2 separate regions of the Homo sapiens genome follow, and region 2 is linked to region 1. Evidence: fine-mapped expression QTL. A gene starts in region 1. The other region holds a variant in brackets. All regions are shown on one strand. Distances are from middle to middle. Region 1 holds the start of RNF216 (ring finger protein 216). Region 2 overlaps RNF216 (ring finger protein 216).

The links. PIP is the estimated chance that this variant, and not a neighbour inherited with it, causes the effect. A credible set is the group of variants that fine-mapping cannot tell apart.
Region 2: its variant is the best candidate, but not a certain one, in a credible set for the expression of RNF216 in testis (GTEx, PIP 0.81).

The regions. Positions count from the first base shown.
Region 1 is chr7:5,778,583-5,783,960 of GRCh38, forward strand. It overlaps RNF216 (ring finger protein 216), which reads right to left and starts at 3,081. Exons shown (of 17, transcript NM_207111.4): 1 at 2,959-3,081. RefSeq lists a silencer at 2,490-2,879.
Region 2 is chr7:5,727,808-5,733,185 of GRCh38, forward strand. It overlaps RNF216 (ring finger protein 216), which reads right to left. Exons shown (of 17, transcript NM_207111.4): 6 at 2,908-3,010; 7 at 1,625-1,789. Among named protein-coding and RNA genes, the nearest start is that of MIR6874, 19 kb to the left of the region's middle. The variant G/A (reference allele first, on the strand shown) is at 3,016.

The DNA.
Region 1 (5,378 bases):
TGATCTTCAATAGTAGATGTACTTTCAGAATAAATAGCACTCACTAATTATAGAAGGATAATTAGTGGCATGAACTCTGGGTCCAAACTGAGTTCAAGTTCCACGCTGACCCTTACAAGTTTTGGGACTAGATATTTTTCAGCACCTCAGTTTCTTTTTTTAAAATTATTATTATTTTTGAGACGGAGTCTCGCTCTGTCACCCAGGCTGGAGTGCAGTGGCACAATCTCGGATCACTGCAACCTCCGCCTCCCGAGTTCATGTGATTCTCCTGCCTCAGCCTCCCCAGTAGCTGGGATTACAGGCGCACGCCATCACACCTGGCTAATTTTTGTATTTTTAGTAGAGACGGGGTTTCACCATGTTGGCCAGGCTGGTCTCGAACTCCTGACCTTAGGTGATCTGCCCGCCTCGGCCTCCCAAAGTGCTGGGATTACGGGCGTGAGCCACACCATTCCCAACTATGTTCTATTATCTTTAACAATAATGCAAATATAATGATATCAGGTATGAGAATGAATTATGTCTCTAAAGAGCTAGAATATAGCAATGCCTAGAATTTTGTAAACACATTAAATAGTAGCTGGTAGTAGAATCAGCAAATACCAGCTCTCTCAACTATCCTATTCATCAACTTTCGATCTGCCTCACTCACACCTAACCCTTCTTTATCAGATTTCTCCACAGGGGCTTCAGGAGTTCTCTTTTATTAGCTGCTGCTGCTCTAATCAGGGTAAAAATCTAAAGCCTCGAATGAGGTTTGCCAGGGGGTCCAAAATCTGGCCCAGACTCTCCAGGCATTTCCTCAAATCCACCACTACTCCCCACACCCCAGGCGCAATAAATTATGAAATACAAAACCAAGGCAAAGCCAGGCCATGTATTAGCCTTCTTCCTTAAAGCAAGCCGACTAAATTGAGATGTTTCATAGAATCTTCCCGCTTCTCTCCCTTCTCAGCGCGTAAAGAATGTTCTGGCAGAGCACGGTGGCTAAAGCCTGTAATTCTTGTGCTTTGGGAGGCTGAGGGTCACTTAAACCCAGGAGTTGGGCAGCACAGCTAGACTCCGTCTCTTAAAAAAAAAAAAAAAAAAAAAAGTTAGCCGAGCGTGGTGGTGCGCGCCTGTAATTCCAGCTACTCGGGAGGCTGAGGCAGGAGAATTACTTGAAGCTGGCAGGCGGAGGGTGCAGTGGGCAGAGATGGCACCACTGCACTTTAGCCTGGGAAATACAGCCAGACTCCGCCTCAAAAAAAAAAAAAAAATGCTCAATGAATGGGCTGGGGTGGGTGGGGCAGAGAGGAGCTGACGGGACATACTACATCTAAAACGCCACTGTTTCCGAGGGACGCGGATATGCTCTGGTCCCCCACCTACATCCCATTCAGTAAACAAAGGTACCCACCGAAACATACAGCAGCACAAACCCATTTTTATAAGACCCTGTGCCTGACTATTGCAGGAAGATGGAGGACAAACAACAGCTGGAGAATAGATGAGCTGATGTTTGGCTCCTAACCTCTAAAACAATGCCAACCCAGCCCCTTCCAGGAGTAACAGCTTGAAAACAATACATGGCATTTAGATAGTTTTTAGCATTCCTGGCAATTCCGTTACTAATTCATGGGTCTTCCTCACAAGGGAAGAAACCCCATTTTTGAGGCACAGGCCCACCAGGGCAAAATGACCTGGCCAGGCTGGAGCCAGGTGCATGTGAGGGCCACTGTGAGGCCCTCTGCTCTGCTCACCCTCTACGTCACAGTGCTTCTTCTGTAGGTGAACGTGTGGGTTTTCAGCCAGGGCGCTTCTTACTGAAGGGCCCGAGGGTCCCGGAGAACATATCTGAAACGTCTTTTGAAAAGACTGTAGCACTTTGGGAGGCCGAGGCGGAGGGATCACCTGAGGTCAGACGTTAGAGACCAGCCTGGCCAACACGGAGAAATCCCGTCTCTACTAAAAATACAAAAATTAGCTGGACGTGGTGGCAAATGCCTGTAATCCCAGCTGAGGCAATCCCTGTGAGGCTGAGGCAGGAAAATCGCTTGAATCCGGGAGGCAGAGCTTGCAGTGAGCCGGGATCGCGCCACTGCACTCCAGCCTGGGCAACAGAGCAAGACTCCGTCTCAAAGAAAAGGAGAAAAAAAAAAAAGTAAAAGAAAAAAGAACGTTCTCTTTGCACGATCTAAGTACCTAGGACAGCTGCTACCCAGGCCCTTAGGGATTTACAGAGCCCTGTCGGATTTGTCAGAAATTTCTGTAACCCGCACGCCGCGCACGCTCCAGGGTTGGTTGCAAGTGGCCCAGAGTCTTGGATCCCTGGTCCTGTTCCACCGGGAGCAGAACCACCTCGACGCGGGGACAGCGGCCTCGCTCGCTGCCCAGCGCCCGGACACCCGAGCCGGGCCAGCCCCCAGCGCCCCGCAGAAGGGTTTGACGCACTTGCGGCGCCCTCGCGAGTGCCGGGTGACAGTCGCCAACTTTCGCGGAACACGCGCTCCAGATGTGAGGGAAGAGGAGGAAAAACGCCGCCCGCCTGGGCTGGGGTTCACAGGCACGGCCCGCCTCCCGCCGCTCCTCCAGGCCGCGCTCGGGTGCACGGACACCGCCTCCGCGGCGGCCTCGGGCCCGGGGGAGGGAAGCGCGGTCTCCCGGGCTGTTGCCCTCGCGCAGCAGACCCGAGGGGCCGGCCCGCGAAACTTCGCGAAGTGGCGAGAGGGGGCCACCCGGCCGCTCAGCGCCTTTGTCGCTCCAGCCTCGCCACCGCACCGGGCTCGAGACGCCCAGCCCAGCCCCTTGGCCCGATCCCGCCCGGGCCTCGGCCCGCGCCCCTCAGCTCGGCGGCCCTCACGGCCCGCGCCCCCGCCCCCACCCCCGGAGCTCCACAGAGGCGCCCCTCAGAGAGGCCGCGTCGCCTCACAGACCCGCCCAGGAGCTCGAGCGCGCCCCGCAGCCGACACTCACTCGTCACTCAAGTCGCCGGCTAGCCAGGCAGGTTCGGCGGCCTTCGCTACCGCGCCGCTTACTCCTCAGAAGCCGCAGCTGCGAGCTCCGTGGCAGCCGCTGCACTCCTTCCGGCCCTGCCGCGGCGTCACCTCGCGCCTGCGCACAGCGCCCCCTCCCGACTAAGGACAGGAAGAACCATAGAGGCACTCCGGGTACTGCGGAGGAGGGACCGGGGGGCTCACCATAGAGAGGGCCGCCTAGTCGCGCCTGCATCCGGGCTCTCCGCCTGCGGAGACTTGACTCCCCCACGAGGCAGGAGGGTGAAAGGAAAGGAGACCCCCATATCCGACCCCACAAGGAGCCACCATCTCCCCAGAGCTGAAAAGGGTATGGGGCAGGTGGTTGTGGATGTTTACTCGATATCTACTGATTTGCCCTAATTCGTTTGGCAAGTCATTCATTCATTCTGCAAATATATTCTGCGGATTTCCTGTGGGCCACACACTGTTCTAGGAATTGGGGAAATTAAGAGTAAAGTGGGTCCCATGGCTGGGCACAGTGGCTCACGCCTGTAATCCCAGCACTTTGGGAGGCCAAGGCGGGTGGATCACTTGAGGTCAGACGTTGGAGACCAGCCTGGCCAACATGGTGAAACCCGTCTCTACCAAAAATAAAAAAATTAGCCAGGCATGGTGGCGGATGCCTGTAATCCCAGCTACTCAGGAGGCTGAGGCGGGAAAATCACTTGAACCTGGGAGGCGGAGGTTGTAGTGAGCCAACATGGCGCCCCTGCACTCCAGCCTGGGCAACAGAGCAACCCTCCATCTCGAAAAAAAAAAAAAGTAAAATGTGTTCCTGGCCTCAGGAAGTTTAGGTTTTAGTGAGCAAGTGAATAACTGACTAAAATACTGCTCCTGCTGGGCACAGTGGCTCATGTCCATAATCCCCGCGCTTTGGAAGGCCAAGGCAGGAGGATCGCTTGAGGCCAGGAGTTCAAGACCAGCCTTAGCAAAATAGCAAGACCCCAACTCTTAAAATAATTGCTGGCCAGGCGTGGTGGTTCACGCCTGTAATCCCAGCACATTGGGAGGCCGAGGCAGGCAGATCACTTGAGGTCAGGAGTTCGAGACCAGCCTGGCCACCATGGTGAAACCCCGTCTCTACTAAAAATACAAAAATTAGCTGGGCATGGTGGTGCGTGCCTGTAATCCGAGCTACTCGGGAGGCCGAGGCACAAGAATTGCTTGAACCGAGGAGGGGGAGGTTGTAGTGCAGTGATTATGCCACTGCACTTCAGCCTGGGTAACAGAGTGAGACTGTGTCTCAAAAAAAAAAAAATTGCCAAGTACACCTTCAAGTAGAGATATCAAGTCAGTAATTAGATAAATGAGTCTGGGCTGGGCATAGTGGCTTATACCTGGAATCCGAACATTTTGGGAAATGGAGGTGGGAGGATGGCTTGAAGCCAGGAGTTTGAGACGATCCTGGGCAATAGAGTAAGACCCCATCTTTACAAAAATAAAAATTAGCCGGGCATGGTGGTGCGCACCTATAGTCCCAGCTACTCAGGAGACTGAGGTGGGAGGATTTTTTTGTTTTGTTTTGTTTTGTTTGTTTTGTTTTTTTGGACAGAATCTCACTCTGTCAGCCAGGCTGGAGTGCGGTGGCACGATCTTGGCTCACTGCAACCTCCACCTTCTGGGCTCAAGCGATTCTCCTGCCTCAGCCTCCTGAGTAGCTGGGATTACAAGCATGTGCCACCACGCCCGGCTAATTTTCGTATTTTCAGTAGAGACAGGGTTTCACCATGTTGGCCAGGCTGGTCTTGAACTCCTGACCTCAGGTAATCTACCCACCTCGGCCTACCAAAGTGCTGGAATTACAGGAGCGAGCCACTAAACCCGGCCAGAGGATTGTTTGAGCCCAGGAGTCCGAGGCTGCTGTGAGCTATGATTGCACTGCTGCACTCCAGCCTGGATGACAGAACAACAGCCTGTCTCAAAAGAAGCAAACAAAAACAAAACAGGGAAATGAGAGGAACAATAGTCTTGATGCGGCAATGAGTGTTCCTTCTCTAAGACAGTAGAGTGTGGCTTATGGGGGCTTGCATGGGACAGAAAAAGACCACTACTCATAGTGCTTTGGGGAACAGTGTCCTGAGGGAATAGTCATGTTTCAGTGAAGTAGAAATTGAAGGGCTGCTTACAGAACAGGACGAGGATCTAGGGATCTTACAGATGTCAGGCCCTGAGTTAGAGGGTGCAGTGCATGGGAGACATTAGAGGGTGAACAGGAGAGAGAGTTTAAGATAGATACTTACCTGAGATGAGATCCTGGAATCACCTGGAAGGTAAAACAAAGGCATTGGCCTTGATGAGCTTATCCTCCATGCTGGTCCTCTTGGGGGAGGTGGATAATCGCTGTCAGTTACAGCCTTC
Region 2 (5,378 bases), 51 kb before region 1:
CCTCCTCCGCTTGGTCTTTGCATGTCAGGAGTCCTCTCTTCTCACCTGGTATCTCTGGGTACCTCATCCTGGCTGGTGAGATTTTCCATATGCTGATGACTCTCAAAGTCCTATCACCATAAAACCCAAGGAGATTAAAAAAAAAAATCCTATCTACAGTCTGTATTTTCCAAACTTTCTAGTCCATTCAACCTCCCAATGAATTATTTTTACTCAGATGTCTCACAGGCCCTTCTCAGCACATTGGCAACCAACGTTTCCCAGACTGAATTCGTGATTATTTCTCTCCAAAGCAGATGTTTATACTAGTTCTCACCCCAATAAATGATACTAACATCTTCCACGACCCCTTTCACCAAACTCCTATGTGGGTCTGTGATTAAATGTCCCTTCCTCAGGGTGGCCCTTCTGGAGACCCTTGGTCTACCTTAGGTTGCCTCCCGTTTTACCCTTTCAAAGCCCCTCTATTTTTCTTTCAGTCTTTTTTTTTGGCCAGGCACGGTGGCTCATGTAGGTAATCCCAGCACTGTGGGAGGCTGAGGTGGGCAGATCATCTGAGGTCAGGAGTTGCTGACCAGCTTGGCCGAAATGGTGAAACCCCATCTTTACTAAAAATACCAACCAGGCGCGGTGGTGAGCACCTACAGTCCCAGCTACTCAGGAGGCTGAGACAGAAGAATTGCTTGAACTGGGGAGGCAGAGGCTGCAGTGAGCCGAGATTAGGCCACTGCACTCCAGCCTGGGCAACAGAGTGAGACTCCGTCTCAAAAAAAAAAAGAAAAAGAAAAAGAAAAAGAAAAGGTGGAAGGGGCTTGGCCTAGACCTTAGCATGAGCCACAGTCCTTGGCTTGGTTCTTCCCTTCCTACAGGTAAGACCCAATGAGTATTTTAACCACTACGATAACTCCACGTTTGTCCTTTGGACAAAAGAAACATCACTGTGTTTGCTGAGAATCACAAGAATTTCAGTAGAATACAATTTAACGGCAGTAAGAGCGACCAAGAGGAGTAAGCCAAGGTCTCTGCTGGTGCGTGCGCTCCTGTTCTGGCCACAGCTACAAAGCAGGCACTGTGTGCTGTCCTTCATGGAAGACGCCTGTGTTACCCACCACAAACCAGCACCCTCCTCACCCTCAACCAAGGCCTTTAAGTGCCATCTATTTTAGGATCCTGCGGGGAGAACGCTGGGAGCTGTCAGTAGCTGCCCACTCTCTTCTGAGGGGGCACTGCTGTGTTCCCGGACTCTCTACAGACCTTACGTCCTATCACTGGTAACTGAGCCACCTGGGGGATGGATGGTCGTGTGACCTGTCCCAAGTTGGAAAGCAAATCAGGAAGGAGCAGCATTAGAATGCATCTTTCACACTCCTGCATTCCACAGTAGAAGGTATTACACTCCATGTTTTTACGGTCAAAGCAGAACTTCTCTGCTTCTCATCTATCTATTATTTCTTTTCATTTAGTCCGTCACGATGAGCAAATACCCATCTATTTATCTTCACCCTAATAAATTCCTTAGCAATCATAAACCATCCCAATTTCCACAAGCTGAACTGTTCATTCTGTTACCATGGGAAGATGTAGTCAAGAGGTGTGACCCCAACAGGAAGACCAAGTAGAGTACCTTTCGGGTGATTGCATAGTGTCCTTTGAGCTCGTGCAGGGCCCACTTGATGTCCTGACTACTGAGCACTTTGAAGTCGGCCATGAGGAGGTCAGCAGCTTGGATGAAGCAGCGCTGGTCAAGAGGGGTCAATTTAGAATAGTCAAAAAAGTCTATTTTAGGCAACTGAAATGAGAGAGAAGCATAAAATCAGAGGCCAGGCAGTACATTTCCCATACAGGGGAAATCATTTTAAGAATTACATGTGTAGAAAAGAATAACATTTGTTCTAATTACTCTATAAGGAAGTTACCAGCCCTATAAGACAGATGAGAAAACGGTGGCTCAGAGAGGTTAAACAAACCTGTCTGGAGCCGACAGACTAGTTTTACTACTAAAGAAGTATAGTTGGGGATTTAAACCAATCTTACAGCCATCTTCTTTCCATACCATATTTACGAACAACTATTTTTTTTCTATTACAGAATACGTAAGAGAGACAGTCAAAGAATCTATGGGGAGTTGGAAGATCAAGCAACAGATCTTAATAAAGTTAGTTCTCAACCATACTTGACCATATAACACACTAAATGCCAGTTTAGATCACAAATAATGACAATGATTGAAGTTTTTAAAAACCAAACTGTTTACATCTTGATATGAGATCTGGTTAAACAGATGTATAGTATACGCTGTATACAAATCTCACATCAAAAGAAAAAAGATATTCCACTCTGGGTAATGACCTGCATGCTGAAGTACTTAGAGGGAAGTGTACTCATGTTTTTGCAATTTACTTTGAAATGCATTATCATGAAATGAAACATAACAAAGTTGTGCTGATGGACAGACAGAGGACATATGTATGATAAAGAGGATACAGTAAACTGTTAACTAGTACCAGTGGTAGGTATATAAATGATCAACGTAAAATATTTCAATTTTTCTGTAGGTTTGAAAATTTTCATAATAAAATGTTAAGAGTTTTGGCCAATTCTTGTTTTGCTTTAGGAATTTGCTTTGTAGGATTAAAGATATGGAGAATTCGTTCAATTCTTTGTGGGAAAAGGAAGATAAGAATTACAAGGAAAGATAGAAGTTAAAGACAGACAGAATTCAAAGTGGCTCAGACTGGGAGATCGCACTGAAGTATAGATATATTCTGAAATCCTATGTCCCTCGGCTAGTCTTTAAAAACTTGTCCCAACAAAGCACTTTCTTCCCACAGAGATAACAACAACAACAACAACAACAAAGCACAGCATTTCCAGGCAGTGACTGCAAAACATGAACATGACACTTGCCTTTGTCTCATCTTGGCTGGCCAGCAGACTGCTACTGGGATTTATAATGATTCTGTCTTCTCTCTTTGGATAATCTGGGTTTTCCAGAAGAAAATTACAAAGTCTGCA[G/A]AAACAAATGATGTTACTTTCATACTGCTTCCAAATCCCACACCTGCCCATTGCTTCAAATGCAATGGTTGAAGAATATAGTCCTTAGTCACACATTACAACTGGCCTATCAAGAAATTAAGATGTTTGTAGCCCAGAAAAACTAAACCAATAAACAAACAACTGCACTGAATTTCTATCTTTGTGAAAGACAAAAAAATTTAAAAAGCAATGAACATACTGATTAAGGCAAACTCCTCTGAAGTTTATGTATCAATTGGGTGTTAATGTAATGAAGTCACTGAAACTATTATTGGTTAAACTACAAAACTGGAAAATTTTAAGAAAAGCAGCTACTCTTTGTCGAGAAAACTATGAACAAGTAAGAAGTGGAAAACTGTGTGTTCACATTTACAGTAAAAAACAGTCTGCTAAGAGATGTAATAAATGAAATATAAAAGACCTTCTGTTAATTCATTAATACTTTTTATACCCCTGTGGTAACATAAATCTCTATGGTAATAATAAAGCTCTATGAGCCATTGAGTTACACGTGGTTTATTTAGCTAGCTGCCAAGCTAGACTGATGAACAGATCATGTTTTCCTATGAACAGACTCTCTTCACACAAAACCCACTAGCTTTGTCTATTATCACCATGAAATACTTCCAAAGTAAGGCTATATAGAGTGAGATAACACACACTGATGTATCACCACCCAGACCCAACACATGTTAACTATCCAGGCTCTTCACAGTCAAATCAGACAACCACCTTGGAACAACTGCACAGTAGTGCAGACAGAGTGGGTGGGGTACAGCTCTAGCCACATTCAGTAGCAAGGAAGCTTCTTTGCTCGGAGGGTAATGGGGACTTCCCCTTTTCTCTGTTCTTTCTCTTGCTCCAGTAGATTTCTAAGATGACCTCCTAGGTGCTATACCTGCAGTTCTCACACACTTCCCTTTCTACTGGTTCTCTTTTGCCAGATGTCAATAGTAAGGCCTGTAATAGTAGAACAGGAGGTCTGGCAGAAAGAGGGTAGAGAAAAAGTGCTCAGCTCTGCTCCTTTTCTCATCCAGGTGCCAGTGTTTGGGGACCGGTTTGGAGAGGTTCATTGATTCTGCAGCCCCCGCCGGGGACCCACGTCAAAGCCTTCTCCCTCATCCTGACATCTCAATGCATTTCCCTTTGCCGTTACTTCAGGAGTCCCATATACTCTTCATCTCTAAGCTCCCCGCTTCCCTACCACCACAGCCTGCCCAGTCCACGGAACACAACGCCTGAGGCCCAAAGAGAGGAAAAAAAGCAGCAAACTCCTCCTATTACAGAGGGCGACAAGAATTCAGAGTACATTTTCCTATAAAACCATTGTCATCAGTGGTAATTCTCCATCCTAGAATTCACTGGTGTGCACTGAGGTTATGCAAACCTTTGAAGGCTGACCTGAGAATTAGCCACCAGCAAAAATCGCGTCTGTAGGGAAAGGCCTGAGTTCCAGACAACTCATTACATGTGCATATTTGATGTGGCGACAAACCAGACACGGACTAGCTTTAAAATGGTCTGTTTTTACGTGTTTTCTCAAGTAAATGATACATAAATACACCTCTACATGAAATACAGATGGAACAGTAGATATGATTTCTTGAAAAAACAAAACATGTTTGAGAGGTTCATCTCTCCCCAATTCATTTTATATTTGCAACAATATTAAGAACTTCAAATACTGAAATGCTACAGACATGAAGTTCCACATGACAGAAATCAGAAGCTCTCACTATAAACTGTCAAAATTCATTTCTAGTTTAATCCCTTCATTATGTTTACCAACACAACTCTTCTGGAGGTTAAGTGACATTTGGAGGCACAGAAAATGAAGGACAAAGTTTTTCTTCTACAGAAACAAGTGGTAGCCTCTGTTCTAATATCTGCACCCTGGGGCAAAAGCAGTGGGGAAGCCTGTCGGACTTCAATCTGCCCACCTCTTCATATGACCTCATGTTTGAGCTGATCTGACATGCTAGCAGTTCTAGAGAAGTCACTCCTGCAAAGTAAGCCAGGCTAGTACTCCAACCTTTCAACCCTTAGATAGTTGTTGCTGCCTTCATCCAACTGAAGCTGACCACGTGTGAGTGAAAGGTCTAAGTTAACCAGCCAAAGTAGATTACCTGCCATGTGGTTCTCTAATGAATAGGCTTCCTGCTTAAAATGGCCAGACGGTTCCATCTGAAGGCCATTTAAAGATGCACATAAAGCAACTGAGACTGAGCTACAACAAAATCCCAGCCTGCTCAACTCAGCTTTGGGCCTTATTTCCAGTTTCCATTAACATTTTAGTTTAGTTGTGGAGTTAACACTGTCCTAGGAGTCCAGAGAATAATGGA